Linked DNA regions of Homo sapiens. The protein of the gene in region 1 purifies or fractionates together with the protein of each later gene. This does not show direct contact. Each region holds a gene or a part of one and is shown in the gene's direction. Other genes may lie near its edges.

Region 1 (4,192 bases):
AATCCCACACTCGCCAAGTGACTCTGCCCAGTATAAACTGGGCGATTAGCCGAGCAGCTCCCCCTAACACACACACACTTACACACACACACACTCACACACACACCCCTCCCCAAGAGCAGACTATGTAGCCAGGGCCCCACCCTGAGAGCCGTGGGAAGGCTGTGGCCCCCGCTGGTAAAACTGGGCTAATGACAGCAGGGGAACCGGCGGGGCCAGGGGGGTGCTGGGGTAATTAGGGCTCGGCCTGGCGCTAGGAGATCCTGAGATGAAAGGTGCTCTGGCGTCACTGGGTTGGTTTTATGTCCATGAATGCAGGTGTGTGGTGTGTGTATGTGTGTGCTGGGGGTGGGGCTGGCATGGTGGAGACCTCTCCTTTGGGTTGGGTTAGGGGGTCCATTTGTATGCAGCCCACCGTCTTCCTTAGATTGACTCTGGTACCATTTGGATTTTTGTGGGAGCAAACATGGGGGGAAATACCACCACCCGGGAGCTAGGAATTGAGGGGGTATGGCAGATCTTGTCCCCTCCCCGAGCTCAGGAGAGGGAGCAGATTGTTGGGGGAAATGGCTGGTGACAGAGAATAGAAAGAGCCTATATGGAGAAGGGTGACGTTGGAAAAGGGAGGCAGTGGATCGGTATTGATGTTAGAAATGAGAGGGGAGGGAGGTAACAGGGAATGAACCCCCACAAGGATGAAAAACGTAAGATGATTGAAGTTAAAAGGACATCAGGGGTCACCTGCCCAGCCCTCGCAGCTGAAGCTTGAGGAAGCTCTGCCCCCGACAGCAGTGGCGATTTGTCAAGGTCACACAGTGAGTTACCGGCGGAGAAGGGACCCGAACTCCCAAACAAACTACACCTGCAAGCGTTTGGTGTTTAGACTTTCTCCCCGATGTATAAGGTGCAGGCTGCTCGTCGATACTTCCTCCTCCACCCTCACGGTGCACACCCGAAAACCCCCCAATTCTCCCGGCAAGCAAAGGCTATTTTTTAATGACATCTTTTCCAAAATATGTCACCAAGTACCCACTCCTGCGGGAGCCGCCCGGGCTGGGGAGGGCGAGTCCGAGCGGGGCGGGGCAGAGGCGGCCGAGGGGCGGCCGGACCTCTGGCGGGGGTCCCGGGGCGCGGCAGGGGGCGGGGGGCGGGGGCGGGCGGCGGCGAGGCGGCCTGCAGGGAGCAGCCGCGAGCCGGCCGGGCGCGCCGAGCCCGAGCCCCAGCCGGAGCGGGGCGGGGGAGGGAGGAGCCAGAGCGGCCGCCGCCTCTGCCGGAGGAGCCGCGGGGCCGCCACACTCGCCCCCCGCCCCCCCCGCGCTCACTCGCACTCACACCCGGGCGCAGGAGGCGGGCGGCCCGGGCCCCACCGGCCCCCCATGGACGCCCCCAGCACGGGGCGCTGAGACCCCCGCGTCGCTGCCCAGCCCGGTCCGGCGCGCCACGCCGAGGTAAGGAGGAGGGAGCGAGGGGGCATTAATATGCAAATGCCTTGCGATTGATTATGCAAAGCCGCGGGGCTCCGTGGCCAGCTCCCAGGCGGGCTAGGGGCGCCCAGGGGGTGCCTGCTGCCAGCCTCAGCCTTTCCTGGCGCCCCAGTGACCCTGTCACGAGCCCGGGAGCTTGCAACTGACGCCCTGGGGAAGGGAGGTGTTGCTAGGAGGTCGCTGGGCCCCGGGGTTCGCAGGCGGAGATGGCGTCCGAGCCTCCCCCTGGAGGGCCCGCCCGGCCTCTGTCCGGCCAGTCTGCTGCGCATTCCCGGGCCGGGCCCCGTTGCCGGCCGCCGGAGCTCCCCCGCCCGCCGCGCCGCGGTTTGTTTACGGTGCGCCGGAGGCCTGCCCCCCCAGCCCCCACCCCTAGCCTCTGAGGCCCGAGTGGCCTTTGCAAAGCTGCCTCCAGCTGCGGAGGGCAGTATGAGTGCGGTGGCGCGGGTGGGCTTGCACGGGTCCGGGGAGAGGGAAGTTCCCCCGCCTCACCCGCCTCCCGGTTGAGCATGGCTGTCTGGTTGCAACACTGCTAATTGCAAAAACGCGGTTGTTGGGGGGGAATGTGTGTGTGGAAGGGGTGTACTTGGTGGTGCCTAGATGATTAGGAGAGTTGCTGGCTGGGGAGGAGAGGGAGAAATGGACCTGTGTGTGTGTACCCCACCTTGTTTCCCTCCCCTTGCAACGTGTCTCTGGTGCCCCTTCTCCATCTGGGGCCCTCCCTTGTCCAGCGTGAAAGAAAGGCCTGGGGGGATGACAGGGGCAATTGAAAGAACCACCGTTCCAGGGGTGGGGGTGGGGGACACAGAAGGAAAGCCAGTGAGGTGGGAGCCTGCCCCTCAGTGCTGGCTTTGGCTCCAGGAGGGGGAGGGGATGAAGGGGGCTGTTGTCCAAAATGAGGGGGGAAGCAAAAGTGACACGCAGACACAGAGATATGTCCACACAGACAGCCACATGCACATCCAGGGACACCCAGGCAGACTCAAGGACAGGAGCTACTGGACACACCCACATGGGGACAAGGGAAGAGACAGGCTGCTGCTGCACCGTGGAGCTCTGAGGGGTGGGATATACCCATGGGAGACCAAGAGCATGGGGACCGATCCATGCACATACCCACGCACAGGGTCACACGTAGATGCTGTCACACACTGGGGCAAGGAGGAGTTGCTGTCACCCACACATAAAAAGTCACTGTCACATGCATGCATGCACACAGAGCAATTGCACACAGCAGCACAATTACAAAAGACCCTGTCACTCACAGGCACACACGTGCTCGCATGAGCCCAGTCACACAGACATCATTGCTTGCCGTGACAGTCGCTGTCACTCAGTCAGATGCAAACACAGTTACACACCAACACATGTATACACAACTTAGCAACAAGTATTTTCCTGGACTCTTTACTGTGGAGCTCTGAGGTTCTGTAGGCAACAAAACCCTTGCTCCCAAGAATATTAAATTTGGCTGTATGAAAAAGTGTTCCTGCGTAATGGTGTAAAGCATGCATTCCCAATGACATGTTCTTGGTCTCTATCGCTTGAGATACCACCCTACTAGACAGTGAGCTCTTGGAGACCTGGGAGAATCACTTAAAGAGCTCTGGATCCCACGCAGAGCCTAGCACAAGGGCTGCTCTGTAAATACTTGTTAGTTGATTGACTGTGGAACCTGCAGACACAGGTGCACTCATTTGCACATGGTCCCCTGAACTCAGGTGCAGAATGAGTTCACAAGGCCCAGGTCCCCACAGTTGCAGGTCCACACCAACAGTCGTGTCCACACAACCCCAGATACACACAACTGCAGCCTGTGCAGCCGAGCACACACTTAGATGCACACAATCACAAATTTTTCCCCTTCAGCTTCCTCCTCCCCTTTTTCCTCTAGGCTCAGCCACTGTGCGGGAATGGGCTGTTTTTTTTTTCTTTCTTTCTTTTAGAGGGACAGAGAAACAAGAGCAAAGACAGTGGGTTCAGGGGGGTTCCAGAGGGCCGAGTCATGGGCTCAAAGCAGTGTCCAGTGACTTCTAGAAGCTAGGATTCTCTTGACTGTTGGGGAAGGGGAGAGCTGCTCTCCTCCCTACCCTAAAAGCTCAGGGGTGTCTAACTGCCCCTGCTCTGAGTCATTTGCCTGGGTCTTTCCTGGGAACAGTCAGTCACTTCCAGCTGAGTTCCTGCGCCCCACCTTGAGTCTGGCCCTTTTTCCCACCTGTACCCTCCTGTCCAAACTTGGAAGCTTTCCTTAAGAGGCCATCGGCTGGCGAGTGTCTGTGTGAGTGATATGTACTTTTGACTTGGAATTTCTCTCTAACTCTGTCTCTCTGTTGCTCTGTCTTGCAGTGTCTGATTCTCCCTCTCTCTCTCCTTGTTTCTCTGCCAGTCTGTAACTCTCTCTCACCCTGTTGCTACCCCCGATCTACCCCTGTCCTTGTCTCAGAGCTGGGGACTGGCAGCAATGTTCTTCATACTTTTCCAGTTGTTAATACCCAAGCTCCGCCCCTCTGCCCCCCCTGCGCAGCCTCTGGGGTCAGCTTGAGGTTGGGGTGGGGGGCGGGGGGCTCAGCTGGCTGCTCAGGACTTCCTGCACTTCCTTAGTGCCGCAGCTGTGGCCAGCAAGTTTTAGGGGCTGGGAATGGGGGAAGGGGGGGGGGGTCAGCCACTGCCCATGCTGACCCCTCGGGCCTGCATGTCTGGAGACACCAGTT
Region 2 (3,652 bases), on another chromosome or scaffold:
ATTATGTTAATTAAATGTTGATAAATACATTTTATCTATAAGACTGTACACTATCAGTGTATAAATTGATAAAATATTAAGAGAAATTATTATAAGGGTTTCAACATAAGATAGCTATTGCTATTTTTGTCTTTTATCATTTACTAACTTAGCCAGCCTTTTAAAAAAAATCTTACAAAAGGTTTGGTGGGTGTAACGGTAGTGTGTTCATACTGCGCAGTTCTTTTTCAGATGTCTAGTATTAAGAACACATTAAATCAAGGTTGGTTTTCTTGGACTCCTATGGAAATTTTCATTTCTATTCATTATTGAACATGTATTTAAACACCAATTCCTGGAGCTCTCTCTTGTCACTTGTGACTTGTAATTTACTGACAGTGATTGAGATGATTGTCAATTTGTTGAGTAACAAAATATGTCATTGTTATAAAAGTACTTATATTATGACTTGGCAGAGGAACTGGGGAGTGATGAAGATGATATTGATGAAGATGGGCAAGAATATTTGGAGATTCTGGCTAAGCAGGCTGGTGAAGATGGAGATGATGAAGATTGGGAAGAAGATGATGCTGAAGAGACTGCTCTGGAAGGCTATTCCACAATCATTGATGATGAAGATAACCCTGTTGATGAGTATCAGATATTTAAAGCTATCTTTCAAAGTAAGTCAACTTGTTACATGTGGATCCATTTCATTGAACAAATCTGTTGTAGTTTCTGCCTGCCCTTTAAAGGAAGAGTTTGGAGGATATCAAACCCAGACTAGAAAAGGCTGGTTAGGCAAAGTAACCAAAATTATTTCTAAGGTTGCCATAGTTTCTGAGTATTCTTTATTCATCCTGTTATTTTACATTTAGATTGTAATTTTGGAAGATTATAGGAAAATAATGTAGTTCAAAAAAGTATACAGTGACAGTGCCTCTTTGCTACTTCTGATTCCCAATCTCCCAGCTTTCCTCAGAAGTAACCACTCTTACGTGTATACCTGTTTGTTGTATGTTATTATTTGTGTGTATCCTTTTTTCCTGCCCAAACCTATACTTAACGTGTTAAGAGTATATTAGCATTTATGGCATATGATCTTATAATTCTTTTTTTCCTATATTCTGTGATGTGTTAACTAATTTAATCTATTATTACTAAATTAGCACTTTCGGCATAATCAAATTTTTAGCTTTAAACAACTAATTTAACCTTGAGATTTTTGAATTATATATGCCTAGGATTCTGGAGCCACGTACACTGTTAAATATTCCAAGAAAAGTCCACTGTTCCTATAATGTGTCATTGTATGTGGCTCCAGAATACTAGGTTCTGGTTGGTTTTTACCATCATTTACTTGGATTTCAACAAGGTATAGCATTTGTGTTTTACCATCCACGTTAAGAAATTAAATTTCCCCTGTATTTGAAACATCTTTTCCTCTCAGAGTTAATTGCTGTTATATATCATTTCCTATGCACTGGGAACTGATGAATATATTTTTTGATAGAATACATTATCTGATAACCAAGGATTTGAGTCTTCTAAGCCCATGACAAGGCAGTTTTGATGCAAGGTTACAGAAGCACAAAGTGCTGGTTTCTGAGCTACATGGCAGCAAGAACTGATTGAGGTGCCAAACTTGTTGTTTCTGTGCCTTGTACTTTGTAGACAGACACCACATGTCAGTCCCTAAAGAATGGTTCCTAACACGGGGCCCATGTACCACAGTAGCCTTGATGATTTTCAAGTTGCTTTAGCTCTGAATCTTTTAAGATGGTTGGGTTAGCTTTATTCCTGAAGTCTCCCTGGTTTGTTACTTACTATATAAGAACTAGTTAGGCTGAGTCCTTATTTGCTGGAGAGATGGATCGTAAGAATGATTAGAGTTTTTGGAGCCATAAAGATAAGCTGTAGTTAATTTTTATTCCTATATCTGTTGTTTCACAAATATGGTAATTTTAAAAATTATTGGGAGAATATAAAATAGATCAGAATTTCAGTATTGCCTCGGGATGGAGTAGGAGGAATAGTGTAGAACGGAGCTACCAAGCCTCTCTTATTCATGTTGTTTTTCCCTTGTTTTTATTTTTTGATAGCTATTCAAAATCGTAATCCTGTGTGGTATCAGGCACTGACTCACGGTCTTAATGAAGAACAAAGAAAACAGTTACAGGACATAGCAACTCTGGCTGATCAAAGAAGAGCAGCCCATGGTATGTTAATTAACTGTAACTCCTCTTTAATTAGTGACTTTTATAGGTTTAAAATTTTATATCGTTTAATTTTATATCATTAAATTTTATCATTTAAGATGATATAAAAGGTATAGTTGTTGCAGGTGATAGGAATTAACTCTAATCTGAGGGATTTAATTCAAGATAACTTAATTTTGGCTTTGGCTACAGTTGGCTTTTTTCGTTTTTTTTTGTTTGTTTGTTTGTTTGTTTGAGATGGCGTCTTGCTCTGTCGCCCAGGCTGTAGTGCAGTGATGCGATGTCAGCTCACTGCAAGCTCTACCTCCCGGGTTCATGCCATTCTCCTGCCTCAGCCTCCCAAGTAGCTGGGACTACAGGCACCTGCCACTACACCTGGCTAATTTTTTGTATTTTTAGTAGAGACAGGGTTTCACTGTGTTAGCCAGGATGGTATCAATCTCCTGACCTCATGACCCGCCCGCCTCGGCCTCCCAAACTGCTGAGATTACAGGCGTGAGCCACCACACCCAGCCCCAGTTTGTTTATTTTTAAGTATAATTGGGCCAGGTGTGGTGGCTCATGCCTGTAATTCCAGCACTTTGGGAGGCCACGGTGGGTGGATTGCCTGAGCTCGGGAGTTTGAGACCAGCCTGGGCAACATGACCAAACTCTGTCTCTACTAAAATACAAAAAACTAGCCAGGCATGGTGGCACATGCCTATATTCCCAGCTACTCAGGAGGCTGAGGCAGGAAAATTGCTTGAACCTAGGAGGCGGAGGTTGCAGTGAGTTGAGATTGCACTACTGTTCTCCATCCTGGGCAACAGAACGAGACTCCATCTCCAAAAAAACAGAAACAAAAAAAACTAGAGAACACAGCCAGACATGGTGGCGCATGCTTGTAATCCCAGCTACTTGGGAGGCTGGGGCAGGCAAGTCCTTGAACCCAGGAGGCAGAGGTTGCAGTGAGCCGACATCACGCCATTGCACTGCAGCCTGGGTGACAAGAGCAAAAGTCTGTCTCAAAAAAACAAAAAAAAGTACAGTTGAAGACTACTTTCAGTTTGCAATAACTTTAGCTCATGGTGATGGTTAGATAGTAGAAAGTTCTGTTAAAAATGTAAACACCTAAGCCGGGCGCAGTGGCTCACACCTGTAATCCCAGCACTTTGGGAGGCTGAGGCGGGTGGATCACCTGAGGTTTAGAGTTCGAGACCAGCCTGACCAACGTGGAGAAACCCCATCTCTACTGCAAATACAAAATTAGCCAGGCGTGGTAGGCATGCCTGTAATCCCAGCTACTCGGGAGGCTGAGGCAGGAGAATTGCTTGAACCCGGGAGGTGGAGGTTGCGGTGAGCCGAGGTCGCGCCATTGCACTCCAGCCTGGGCAACAAGAGCGAAACTCCGTCTCAAAAAAAAAAAAAAAAAATTTAAACACTTGGCCAGGCGTGGTGGCTCATGCCTGTAATCC
Region 3 (3,652 bases), on another chromosome or scaffold:
TGTTCATAGCAGCATTAATCACAATAACCAGAGGTGAAAACAATCCATGAACATCAACAGATGAATGGATAAACAAAATGTGATATCTATATATATATCTATATAGATATATATATAGATATGCATAGAGTGGAGTATATTTATCCATAAAGAATGAAATAGGCTAAGTGAAATAAGCCTGGCATGAAAGGATACATATTGTATGGTTCCACTTACATGAAATATCTAGATTAGGAAGATTCTTAGGGACAGATAGTAGAGTAGAGGTTACCAGAGCCTTGGGGAAAAAGGCGGTGGGATTATTGTGTAACGCAGGGGTCCCTGCGTCAGCACCGGTACGTTAGGAATTGGGCCGTACAGCAGGAGGTGAGCCACAGGCAAGCGAGCATTACCACCTGAGCTCTGCCTCCTGTCAGATTAGCAGTGGCATTAGATTCTCATAGGAGCTTGAACACTATTGTGAACTGCGCATGTGAAGGATCTAGGTTGCATGCTCCTTATGAGAATCTAATGCCTAATGAATGATCTGAGGTGAAACGGTTTCATCTTGAAACCATCCACCATCTGCCCCTTCCCCCAGCCCCCGCCCTGCACCTCCACCCCATTATCCGTGGAAAATTTGTCTTCCTCAAAAATGGTTTCTGATGCCAAAAAGGTTGGGAACCGCTGGTTTAATGGATTCAGAGTTTCTGTTTGGGATGACAAAAAAAATTCTAAAATGGATAGTGGTGGTGATCGCAGAACATTGTGAATATACTTATAGGATGCCACTGAATTGTACACTTAAAAATGATTAAAATGGTCTTTTTATGTTAGATATATTTTACCACAATCAAAAAATTAAAATAACCAACCAAACAACAACAAAATAGATTTACTCAGATAATACCTGTTCAGTGTCTTTTCCTCACAGATATCTTCTCATTTGTTACTGAAGTATCCGTCTCAGAATTGTGTGGGTGCTTATTAGATGTTTAAGATTGTTTACCTGTGGGTTTGTATTGCCTTTGAATTACAAATGGTGTGGGGTTTTTTACATTATTTTTGTGACAGAAATAGTTAATGCATCTCCTTTGTTTTGCAGTTACTTCGAGAGCTTAAGCATCCAAACGTCATTTCTCTTCAAAAGGTGTTTCTGTCTCATGCTGATAGGAAGGTGTGGCTTCTGTTTGACTATGCTGAACATGACCTCTGGGTAAGGTGAATTGCTGGCAGACATGAGCAAACAGTCAGGGATTGTTAAGAGTAACTAAAAACAGTTAGGTGTTCTGCTTATTATGAGACTTATGTTTTTAAAATAAAAGTAACCTCATAGAGTGTGGTTGGTGGCATGACGAAGGCTAGAGTATTTGACTTTGTATTATTACTTTTCAATATTGTCACTTTGATCTTTTAACAGATACTAAAGAAAACAATAGAATCTAAAGAGTGTTCAACAACTATTCAATATTGCTTCATATAGTTTTTTGATAAAATAAAAAGTAACTAATATATATAAAATTTTGCTCTAAAATAGAAAAGTAGCATATTTCCTTTTATTTCGTTGTATAAAGGGAACATAAAATGAGAAGGTGGTATCCTCATGTAGGAGGACGAATATGCTATCTTTGGAGAGATCTAATAGTTCTACCATTATTTGTCGTATAGCATTAAGCAAGTCTTTTAATGGCTTTGAAGCTGTAGTTTACCCCATCTGTAAAATGTAATACTTTCTTGCCTTTTTTAACAACGTTTTTCTGAGGAACAATCTTGTATTTGAAAAGTTTTATAAATATACAAATGTAGGAAACTGTTATTAATTATTAACTATTCACAATTGAATTTAATATCCTAATTCTTATTTTCAGTGGCAGTAGTTCAATACAGTATAGTCATGCGCCATATAATGTTATTGTCAACTAGGGACTGCATATATGATAGTGGTCTCCTAAGATTATAGTACCATATTGTTACTGTACCTTTTCTATGTTTACATATGTTTAGATAACACACTTATTTACTATTGTGTCACAATTGCCTTCCTTATTCAGTACAGTAACATGTACAGGTTTGTAGCCTAGGAGCAGGAGGCTATAACATATAGCCTAGGTTTGTAGTAGAGTCTATCATCTAGGTTTGTGTAAGTACAGTCTGTGATGTTTACACAACTGCAAAATTGCCTAACGACACATTTTTCAGAATGTATCCCTTCATTAAGTGATGCATGACTGTATTGTACTTACTTGAATTGGGCATAATCTTGCATTGGAGGAATTTTTTGTGGATGAGAGCTCTATTACAAAATAAGATTCGTGTGAAAATAAATTTTAATATCTCTTGGGACTTTTAGTTCTTTGTTTTCTGACCTATGATAAGAATAGTTTTAGGCCAAGTGTAGTGGGTCACACCTGTAGTCCCAACACTTTGGGAGGCCAAGACAGGAAGATCACTTGAGCCAAAGTGTTTGAGACAAGCCTGGGTCACATGGCAAGACCCTGTCTCTGCAAAAAATAAAAAAAATTAGCTGGGCTCAGTGGCACATGCTGTGGTCCCAGCTGTTCATGGGGCTGAAGCTCAGGAAGTCGAGGCTGCAGTGGGTCCTGTTTGCACTGTTGCACTCCAGCCCGGCTAATTTTTGTATTTTTAGTAGAGACAGGGTTTCACCATGTTGGCCAGGCTGGTCTCTTAACTCCTGATGTCAGGTGATCTGCCCACCTCGGCCTCCCAAAGTGCTGAGATTACAGGCCTGAGCCACTGAGCCCAGCCAGTTTATTAGTTTATCTAATGCATTGCAGAAAATGATGCTATATTGAAAAAAATTACTGTAAAATAAGAACTTAATTTTATCTTGTCTGAGTAGCTGAAATACAAACACCAGCCTCAGTATTTTGCAGTTTACTAAGCAGATTATTTTTTAAATTGGTATTTGAGGAACTCTAAGGTAACTATAAAATTTGCTCTTTTATTAAATATAACATTTATATATTTTTTAAAAATCTGAAACGTTACCTTGCAGATAAAACTTTGAGATATATATATAGAAAATCTATAATAGGATAGCCAAAGTAATTTTGAAACATAGTAACAAAATTGACATTCTTATCAATCTGTATAGAGAACATCTGTTAATACAGATTATAGTTTAAGAAACAAGTAAACTAAACATCTAACATTACCTTGTGTTAATTCATTAAGAATTACTATACTCCTGTGAACTGCTTTTTAAATGATATTTAATAATGTCTTTAAACATTGTATTGATTTGCATACTAATCTATATTTACTAAATTAGCATGGCTATGCTTTTTATTATGTATACATGAAATTTTCTCTCTTTTATGAAACTCTTTCCAAAGTTCATGCTGGTTATTAATTTCTTCTTTTTTTTTAAATCTTTGGTTCTTCTGTTCTTCTATTTTAAAAGAAATCTAATCAGATCAACCCTGTTAAATCAGCGTGGCCAGTATTAAATTGAACACTCACTATGCTGAGCCTCATAAGAAATAAAGTCATATAATTTAAACTTAAGGCATTTTCCAGGCTGGTTTATAAACAAGATTTGTGATAAACCACAGTAGAGCATAGAAGATAGTATAATATTTCACTCAATGTGATTTCTAGCTGCTAGTTTGTAATATTTAATTTTACATGTAGGTACAATGATTATACTTCA

The links.
Region 2: the proteins of THRA (region 1) and IPO7 purify together in Homo sapiens (affinity purification with western blotting, with the first as the bait; one study listed by BioGRID). This does not show direct contact.
Region 3: the proteins of THRA (region 1) and CDK8 purify together in Homo sapiens (affinity purification with western blotting, with the first as the bait; one study listed by BioGRID). This does not show direct contact.

Annotation. Positions count from the first base shown.
Region 1 is NC_000017.11:40,061,645-40,065,836, forward strand, and holds the start of THRA (thyroid hormone receptor alpha), read left to right. Parts: upstream 1-1,320; 5' UTR 1,321-1,448; intron 1,449-4,192.
Region 2 is NC_000011.10:9,440,000-9,443,651, forward strand, and holds part of IPO7 (importin-7), read left to right. Parts: intron 1-455; coding exon 456-662; intron 663-2,081; coding exon 2,082-2,198; intron 2,199-3,652. UniProt on the Homo sapiens protein: Functions in nuclear protein import, either by acting as autonomous nuclear transport receptor or as an adapter-like protein in association with the importin-beta subunit KPNB1.
Region 3 is NC_000013.11:26,347,988-26,351,639, forward strand, and holds part of CDK8 (cyclin-dependent kinase 8), read left to right. Parts: intron 1-1,084; coding exon 1,085-1,195; intron 1,196-3,652.